3 linked regions of the Homo sapiens genome follow. The protein of the gene in region 3 interacts with the protein of the main gene of each other region in a pairwise test. Each region holds a gene or a part of one and is shown on either strand. Other genes may lie near its edges.

Region 1 (2,830 bases), on a different chromosome or scaffold from region 3:
ACGCCAACACGCCCACTTAATTTTTATATTTTTTGCAGAGATGGGGTTTCACCATGTTGCCCAGGCTGGTCTGGAAGCTCTGAGCTCAAACGATCCTTCCACCTTGACCTCCCAAAGTGCTAGGGTTACAGGTGCGAGTCACCACGCCCAGCTGGTGTTTTTAAGCATGTGCTTATCTGCTCACTTACAGAGAGACATTTACTTTTCTGACTGTGCTTACAGGAAGTCACTCTGAAAACTCAGGTTTACACAACATCTACTTGTACAATCAAGCACACACTCTCAGGCTGCATGAAGTACTGTCGCAGACAGGACTGCAAACCCTCTCAGGGGTGAGAATGGCTGGCAGCAGTGCTCAGGAGAGGGATGTGGCAGGAGTCAGCTCCTAGGAAGTGCCAGCGCCCACGCACCTGTGAGCTCCTGGAGTCTGACTCACCGGGTAAGTGAATTCTTGTAATTTCCACAAACAGCCCTGGGGTTCCCCTAAACCAGACCGTGAGCCTCTTGAGACGGCGGATCCCCAACAGTGCCCAGAACCTGGGAAGGAGCTCATCGTTCTCAATGCAATTATCAAAAATGACACTGAGAAGTTATCTTTATCCTCCTTGATTCAAAAATACAATTTATTTTAAAAACAAAAAGAGGGAATGGATGCAGAAGCCCGTCTGGGCTTTCCGTGGAGTCGCCCCTTCCCAATGGCGATGGCCGCTCCCTGTGGCCTCAGCTTCCTCCGTGGAATGAAGGGGTCCAGGTGACACCTTCCTCGAAGGGTGGGCGTGGGCCTGAGGCTCCCAAGTCGGCCAGGGGCTCGGCCTGGCTCAGAAGAGGTGCTTCACATCAACAGTGGTACGGGGTGGCCGCTGGGCCCTGGGTAGCGTGGGGTAGGGGTCGGGGGAAGTCGCTGTAGGGCAGGCTGAAGGGGTAGAGGGGTCTGTAACGTGAGTCCTGCCAGAGCAGCTTGTCCTCCAGGAAGGCGACGGTGGGCAGCGTCAGGACCAGCGTCTGGTGCTTGAGCATGCTGTGCACATTTAGGCCTGGGGGCGGGGTGGGGGCGGGGCGGGGGGCCGGTCAGGCCGGGGCTGCCTCTCTCCTCACCCCACCCACATCGGAGTCCCTTTGTGCTTACAGAGATCGTCACTGTGGTCTAGTGTGACTTTGTGAGCCCAGCAGCCCGGGGCCAGACCCTGCCTGGCCGCTTGTTGCCTGTAAGCCTCTGGCCAAGGAGCTGCTCCCAGCTCATCACCTGCTGACCGAGAGCCAGGCTCGGTCCTGTGCCTGGCTGGGACTCCTGGCTCCCATTCTGGTGGGGGAGACCCAGGGCAAATGACGGGAGGGCAGGGAGGTGACGGGGCACATCGTGCAGGGCCTGACGTGCCACCCTGATGACTTGGGCTTTCATCCTGAGAGAGGTGGGGAAGCCAGCGAGGGGCGTGGGTTGAGGGACAGGACTTGACTTAGGCTCATGTCGCCATCTTGTGGCTGTGGAAGGAACAGACTGTGGCTTTGACAGAGGTGACTTTGGAGCTTTTTTTTTTTTTTTTTTTTTTTTTTTGAGACAAGAGTCTAGCTCTCTCCCCAGGTTTGGGTGCAGTGGTGCGATCATGACTCACTGCAGCCTTGGCCCCCTGAGCTCAAGCTATCCGCCTGGCTCAGCCCCCGAGTAGCTGGGACTACAGGTGCACATCGCCACGCCTAACTTTTTTATTTTTAGTACAGATGGGAGCCTCACTATATTGCCCAGACTGCCTTGGCCTCCCAAAGTACTGGGATTACAAGCGTGAGCCACCATCCCCAGCCAAGCACTTCTTTAGGAAAGATTATTGCTTTGGGCAAGCTGAAGGTTGGGTCCGGGAGCGTGGTCACTGCCTGAGGCCACTCAGCGACCAGATGCCGGATTTGAACCGCTGTGATTCTAACAGCGGAGCCTGCACATGCGCACTCTAGGGGCCTGGGCTCTTTGCTCACCAACAGCCGGGATCAAGTTGAAGGTCTTAAGCCTAGAGGTGGCCTCCACGATGCTCTGTGGCATCTCCTCGTGTGTTCTGTAAGAGAGGCCAGGGAGTGGGGGTTGAACCCTCAGAGTACGGAGCTCAGGGCCCCCTGCCCCTGCTCTGCCCTGTGCCCTCACAAGTCCACGAGGAGTACGGAGTCCCCCCAGCGGCGGTAGTGCGCCAGCTCTGTCAGGTACTGTGGGTCTCCGGTGGGCAGCTCTAGGGAGTCCATGATGTGCAGGTCGTCCTGGTGGAAGGAAAGGATGGTTTGAACCCTGGGTCCAGAGCAGCCCCACCTCTAGCAGCTGTCTGGGCCCCCCCATGGCTGTACCTGGGCCAGCTTGACGGTCAGTGCCACTTTGAGACCCAGCGCCCGCACCTTCATGGGCAGCATGTAGTAGTAACTTGTGGGGCCCCGGGGGCCATGGGCAACACCTCCTGCGGGGACAGAGGCATGTGAGCAGGTAGGGGCCACTGCAGAGCCTGGAGGTCAGCAATCTGCTGCAGTGGCTGGCATGGGGTGACGAGAGAGGGGGCGCTGCCAGGAACAAGGCAGAGAGGGTGGGGCCTCAGGGGAGGCTGGATCAGGGACAACATGGGACCAGTGACTTTGCTTCACTGGGCTTCAGTTTTCCCAGCTGTCACACTCTGAGACAGGGCTGGCGAAGGTGGCTCACACCAGCATTTTGGGAGGCTGAGGATGGAGGATCACTTGAGCCCAGGAGCTCAAGGCTGCAGTGAGCTATGATTGCACCACTGCACTACAGCCTGGGCAACAGAGCGAGATCTTGTCTCAAAAGCAAACAATAAAAAAAACAAACCACCTTGAGATCGGACAG
Region 2 (3,568 bases), on a different chromosome or scaffold from region 3:
GAGAGTATTCAAACTTAAAAAAAAATGGGCTATCAAACCATGAAAGACATGGAGGCACTTAAATGCATATTATTAAGTGAAAGAAACTAATCTGAAAAGGCTATGTTCTGTATGATTCCAACTACATGACATTCTGGAAAATGCAAAACTATGGAGACAGTAAGATTAGTAGTTGCTGGGAGTTAAAGGGAAAAGACGAATGAATAGGCAGAACAAAGGATTTTTAGGGCAGTGATACTATTCCGAATGTTACTAAAATGATGAATACACATTTGTCAAAAATCCATAGAATGCACAACATCAAGACTGAACCCTAATGTAAACTATGGACTTAGTGTAATAATGATCTATCAATGTAGGCTCATCTATTTTAGCAAATGTGCCACTCTGGTGTGGGATATTGATAATGAGGAGAGAAGAAATAAGACCTTCTCAACTTTGTTATGAACCTAAAACTTCAACTTTGCTATGAACCTAAAACTGCTGTATTTAATTATATATATATATCTTCATATATAATATATATTTATATATAAACTGTCTAAAAAACAATAAATAAATTTATATAAATAAACTGTCTAAAAAACAAATACATAACATCAACTGAAATTTCTGAATCAAATTTAATTTCTTTTATCATCAAAAGTTAAGACATATTTCCCTCAGTCTTAGGAATTTTTATTGTTAATACAAAATAAATTATACATGCTGTATAAATTTTTATTTATAGCTAAATATTTCTTCAGTCATCACTGTCACTTCCTGATTCACTCAGCTGCAAATCATTTCCTAAAATAAGAAAGAAATAACAAAACTGTAGTAATTAAATATTTAATATTATTTTTGCATAACACAAATTTTACACAAAATATAGCCCCCAAGCGTGATTCTGTTTACCTAGTATTTTGCTTATTCTGTAATTCAGTGACACAATTAGTAACTCAAATAATACTGTGTGTAAAGAAAAAATATACCACTAAACTTCAGCAGTTTTAGTATTTCCTGGCATCTATTTTAGTCTTCTTTCACATATCCCCATCACTCTTTTTTTTATATCACTGATTTAATTAAATCGGGAAATGAGAAAAATGTAGTTTAGAAGATTAAACTATATCACTTTGAAGAGTGAAAAAAATGTTATTTTTTTTTTACTTAAAATGGAGTCAAAATCATTAAATAATATATGTCAAGGATAATTCACCATTGATTCATTTTGTAATTCATCTATGTACTTACAGTCATGGAGCTTACAGTCCAGTGGGGGAGACAGACAGTAAACAAATAAACAAATATATAACATAATGCCAAGTAGGGATAAGTGCTATGGAAAAATGAAAATGGGTATGGAGATGGCAGTGGCAGGTGCTATTTTAAATAGGGTAGTTTTGAAGGCCTTTTTGAGGGGTGACATTTGAACAGAGATCCAAATATAGGAAGAAAGTCATAAAAAATGGAGAATGTGGAGGTGAAGTGACCAGGCCAAAAGAACAGAAGTGCAAATGCCCCAAGGCAGGAGCATATTTGTTGCATTCTCTGACTTGCAAGAAGGCCACTGTGGGTGGAATGGAATGAATAAGGAAGATAACAGTAGTAAATGAGGTCAGAAAGATATCCACAAGGTCATGGTAAAAACTTTGGATTTTGTTTGAAAATGTAATGAGAATTCATGAGAAAATTTTAAGCAGGCAACTAACTTAAAACCGGTTGTAGATCAGTAAATACGCCATAATGGTGTGGAAGAAACACAGAAACAAGAGAGAAGTTGTAAGTCTAATGCAGTCTCTCATGTAAGAAATAATGTTGGCTTTGACTCAGGTAGTCTGGGGGAGGTGAGGCTAAGTGGTCAGATTCATAATGTACTTTGAAGACAGAGTTTATAGGACTAATTAAAACATTGAATTTAGGGTACAAGAGAAAGAAGTGAAGAATGACCCCAAGGTTTTTGTTGTGAACAACTGGATAAATCATTTACTGAGTTATCATTTACTGAGATGAGAAACACCAGAGGAACATGGTTGTAGAAGAAAAATCACAAGTTCAATTTTCATGTGGTAAATTTGAGATACCTAGTAAATACCCAAATATATATGGTACTGGCAGTTGGATATACAAGTCTGGAGCTAAAGGTAGAGGCTGGACCTAGAAATAAAGATTTGAGAGTCATTGATCGTACAGGTTTATCTGAAGCAAACAGACTGAATGAAATCACTTAGGTAGTAAATTACAATGGTTAAAAAAATTCTTATATTTTTTAACTAATCCGCAATCAAAAAAGCTGGCATGTTTTGAAATCAATACCTAATTTAAGAAGAATAGTTTTTAGGCCACGTATAAATTATAAGATGTTTCAGTCTTTTGCATGAACTGCAGAACTGATAACATCATTTGATAAAGAAATCTGCGAGGTCGGGCACGCGGTGGCTCACGCCTGTAATCCCAGCACTTCGGGAGGCTGAGGTGGGCGGATCATGAGGTCAAGAGATTGAGACCATCCTGGCCAACATGGTGAAACCCCGTCTCTACTAAAAATACAAAATTAGCTGGGCATGGTGGCACATGCCTGTAGTCCCAGCTACTCGGGAGGCTGAGGCAGGAGAATCACTTGAACCTAGGAGGTGGAGGTTGCAGTAAGCCGAGATCACGCCACTGCACTCCAGCCTGGCGACAGAGTGAAACTCCTTCTCAAAAAAAAAAATAAATAAATAAATAAGAAAATCTGCTAAAACTTCTTCTGTGCATCTGGTTCTCATGACCATCTCATCACTTTCATTTCTTTTTTTTTTTTTTTTTGAGATGGAGTTTCACTCTTGTCACCCAGGCTAGAGCACAGTGGCGCTATCTCAGCTCACTGCACCCTCTGCCTCCCTGGTTCAAGTGATTCTCCTGCCTCAGCCTCCCGAGTAGCTGGGATTACAGGCATGCGCCACCATGCCTGGCTAATTTTTTTGTATTTTTAGTAGAGTCAGGGTTTCACCATGTTGGCCAGGCTGGTCTCGAACTCCTGATCTCAGGTGAATCACCTGCCTTGGCCTCCCAAAGTGCTGAGATTACAGGCATGAGCCACCTTGCCTGATGCATTTCATAATTTTCAAGGATTAAGTTTCCACTTACAGAACTATTATATGACATAAGAATGTTATATGATGCCTGTAATATGAGTTTTTCAAGCGACACAAACCCAAACGTACTCAGAGTTCCATTTTGCCTTTCTAGACTTTATGCTGTCAAGGTTAGGAAATATTCAGTCAAGTTTTGAAGATATAAGATTAGCCTTTGATTATGAGTTGCTTAGTAAAGAAAATATGTTTTCAATCATAGCTGTAATTATGACTCAGAAAAAGAGAGTTTACCCATAGAAATATATTCAGGCATTTAAATCAATAGTTATCACTGAGAGTAGTACTGCCCCCCAGGGGATGATACAGAAATTTACATGAGGGGTTGCTTGTCCTGTTGGCTGTAGATTGCTAATAGCATTTAGTGGGAGGGGAGTTTAGGAATGCTAAATGTCTTGCAATGGATGAACCAGTCTTGCACAATAAAGAACTCTTCTACATTCTGTGAAATT
Region 3 (3,659 bases):
GCAAATGATTCACTCTGTGATACACATTCTTATTTATTTGAATCAGGGTAGCACGTTTTTCTCAGGTGTCTTAAAGCTCTTTACAGATAAGTATTGAATATAAACATCTCAGAAGATAAAATAAAATTAGTAACTAAGAGTGAGATAGTTTATAGCTTGAAGATTATTGACCTTAATAGAAACTTAGGCTTTCTGAAACTTTCTGGGAATTTTATCATTCTAAAAATCAAGTGGAAGGACATTGTTTCCTATGACATTTGCATTACATGAACAATTTTCAATCTTAAATCCATACAAATACTTTTCCTACCTAGGTCTGTTACTTGTCGATCAAATGGGCAACGGATTGCTCTTCCATGAAGAGGTAGGCGAGTGAGACAGTCATGACAGACGGTATGGCCACAAAGCAAAAGACGGGGAACTTTGTCTCCTTGCAAAGAAAAGACATCTTCACAAACTCCACACTCTAGCACCTAATATTTGAAAAGGAAGGATGTGCTCTTTAAACAATTTTAAAAGCATACATATTTTAGGTATATAAGAAAATTCACCTAATATATTGAATCAACATTGTTACTTTATTCCTCTATGAAAAAAAAACTATGTAGGTTGTAAAATCTTGAATCACTTTTAAGTCATTCCATTTGACCGACCCTGTCAAAATTATATCATAATGAAATATCTTTGAAATACTAAGTGTTGGGGCAAAGATGCTGTAAATTAACATCTTTGTTATCTTTTGAAAATTATGATTTCAGTCATTACATCTGAATCTGTACAAACAATATGTAATTCTACTGAAGGTGGGTTCTTAAGCAATTTCTCTGCAACTACCTAACCCATCATTAATTTCAACACAAATAAACTATCATTAATTTCAACAAAAATAATCTAAAATATGTACTGAGATAACAATTACCCCTGCAAATGATAAAGAACTTGTTAAGAAAAGACTGCAAGTAACTTTCAAGTATCTTCTACTATCTAATGTACATTAAATAATACAAAGGCAAAAAAAGCAATCATCTTAAATTTCAATTCCTGTTCTCTATCAATAAATATAGCTCTGAATTAGAAACTAGTTTGTCTTTCTAGCTCTAGTTACAGACACATGACTTGCACAAGGCTACACAGTCAGTCAAAAGAAAGGCCATTTATCAGCATATTCTGATTCTCAAGTCCATAAGTTTATGTTTTACAAATAGTCAACAAATTGTATTTATAGCAATAAAGCATTTTCAGCACTTATTTCTAAGTATATTTGTAGTGTTTCATACCTTGCATTAATTTTTTAAAAATACCCACACTGTACTATTCAATCATACCTCAAACTCCTGTCATTCAAGACCTGCTACAATCTGGTCCCTGTCCTATTGCTTCACTGCCATACTCTTCTGACCCTATGCTCCAACTATATCCAACAGCTTATAGTTCTCAGAACATGAGAAACTGTTTCATGTCTCTTCATGCTAACACTGAGGAAAGGACTATACTTGTCCTTTGGGCCCCGATGTACTCTGTATAAGCGTCTACCGTAACACCCAAAACACTTTAATACCTTGGTCTTTTAGCCCGTCTTTCCCTGTTGGACCAAAGAACCCTCAGGAACTGGGTATTTTAAATACCAAGTACCTACTGCTTACATAAAGTCCAGTAAAATAATTTAAAAACAATTAAGCTCACCATCATCAAACACACAACACGAGGTAAAAAACAGAAAACCCAAGGCAGAAATCAGACTAAATCTACTATGATTTTAAACCTAACTCTACAATTAACTTGGACTTAGTGCTTGAGATGCAAATATCTTTCACCATACAGTGATAATTCATAATTGCTTTGCATCTTATCATGGTTCAAAAGAAATTTAAATTTAGTCCTTCAATGTAAATAAGGGTTTGGGAAGATAAAAATGAATAAAAATAAGAAACATAACATTGTTCAGAGAAAAGAAGATGAAAATTCTTTACGTGAAAAGATGTTCAATCTAACTCATAATAAGAAAAATGCAAATTAAAGCTAGGCATGGTGGTTCATGCCTGTAATCCCAACACTTTGGGAGGCCGAGGCGAGTGGATCATCTGAGGTCAGGAGTTCGAGACCAGCCTGGACAACATGGTGAAATCCCATCTCTACTAAAAATACAAAAAAATTAGCCAGGCATAGTGGTGGGCGCCTGTAAGCCCAGTTTACTCAGGAGGCTGAGGCAGGATAATTGCTTGAGCCTGGGAGGCGGAGGTTGCAGTGAGCCAAGATCACGCCACCGCACTCCAGCCTAGGTGACAGAATGACACTCGGTCTCAAAAAAATAAAGAAAGAAAAATGCAAATTAAAGCTACATCAAAATACTTTTTTCAGATTAGATCAAAAATGTTGGTAACATTTTGTTAGTGAAGGTGTGGGAAAGCAGACACTCTCATACATTACTAATTGCTATGAAATGTTTATTGAGCAATACAGCTTCTATGGAGGGCAACTTGACAATACTTACCAAATTTAAATAACTCAGTAATTCTAGTTGCAGGAATTTATCCTACAAGCATACTAGACACGTGTGACAAAATCTGTATGTTACTCCTTAAAGCATCATTTGCATTAGCAAAAAATTGGAAAGAAAGTAAATATACATCAATATCAGCTTGGAAAATAAATTGTGGCACATTCATAATACTATAAAACTATATAGGATAGTGAGAAAGATGAAGTTTTTCATATATACACAGAATGATTTCATATGATTAAAACAAAAAGAAAAATAATAGAATATATTCATTTTTGCATAAAGGTGGGGAAAGAGCAAATTTTTTTTGTATTGTTGTATAAGCGTATTGTCTTCCTGGAAGGATACATAGGACACCAGTAACATTGGAACACTGGTTCCCCATGAAAAAGGCAAACAACTGGGGAACAGCTATCCACGTATAATTCTGTCTATTATTCATATATACACATACTTCAATTTATCCTACATTTTTTAAAAAGGGGAAAGTTTCACGTTATCAAATTCTTTAGGCCAGGCACTGTGGCTCACACCTGTAATCACAGCACTTTGGGACACCAAGGCAAGAGGACTGCTTGAGGCCAGGAGTTCAAGACCAGCCTGGGCAACACAGCGAGACCCTGTCTCTACAAAAAAAAATCAAAAACTGAGGTGGGAGGATCATTTGAGCCCAGGAGGTCGAGGTTGCTATGAGCCATGATCGTGCCATTGCACTCCCACCTGGGTGACAGAGTGAGAACCTGCCTCAAAAAAAAAAAATTCAATTAAATATAGAAAAAATATTCATAGGCTGGGTGCGGTGGCTCACGCCTGTAATCTCAGCACTTTGGGAGGCCAAGGCGGGCAGATCACGAGGTCAGGAGATTGAGACCATCCTGGCTAACGTGGTGAAATCCCATCTCTACCAAAAATACAAAAAATTAGCCAGGCGCGGTGGCGGGCACCTGTAGTCCCAGCTACTCGGGAGGCTGAGGCAGGAGAATGGTATGAACCTAAGAGGCGGAGCTTGCAGTGAGCCAAGATTGTGCCACTGCCCTCCAGCCTGGGCGACAGAGTGAGGCTCTGTCTCAAAAATTCACAATAGAATTTGATATAAAATAAATGCAACATTTTATAAATGCTGTATTATGATACTCTAATAAAGTAAATTTATGACAAT

What was found.
Region 1: the proteins of TRIM23 (region 3) and MRPL4 interact in binary tests that used the Homo sapiens proteins (3 or more experiments, as listed by UniProt).
Region 2: the proteins of TRIM23 (region 3) and EAF2 interact in binary tests that used the Homo sapiens proteins (3 or more experiments, as listed by UniProt).

The regions. Positions count from the first base shown.
Region 1 is NC_000019.10:10,257,821-10,260,650, reverse strand, and holds the end of MRPL4 (large ribosomal subunit protein uL4m), read right to left. Parts: intron 2,430-2,830; coding exon 2,323-2,429; intron 2,239-2,322; coding exon 2,129-2,238; intron 2,043-2,128; coding exon 1,966-2,042; coding exon of another isoform or gene 1,913-1,965; exon of another isoform or gene 1,480-1,912; coding exon of another isoform or gene 1,145-1,479; exon of another isoform or gene 1,035-1,144; coding exon 838-1,034; 3' UTR 596-837; downstream 1-595.
Region 2 is NC_000003.12:121,883,563-121,887,130, reverse strand, and holds the end of EAF2 (ELL-associated factor 2), read right to left. Parts: intron 790-3,568; coding exon 743-789; 3' UTR 605-742; downstream 1-604. UniProt on the Homo sapiens protein: Acts as a transcriptional transactivator of TCEA1 elongation activity. Acts as a transcriptional transactivator of ELL and ELL2 elongation activities. Potent inducer of apoptosis in prostatic and non-prostatic cell lines.
Region 3 is NC_000005.10:65,617,783-65,621,441, forward strand, and holds part of TRIM23 (E3 ubiquitin-protein ligase TRIM23), read right to left. Parts: intron 474-3,659; coding exon 311-473; intron 1-310.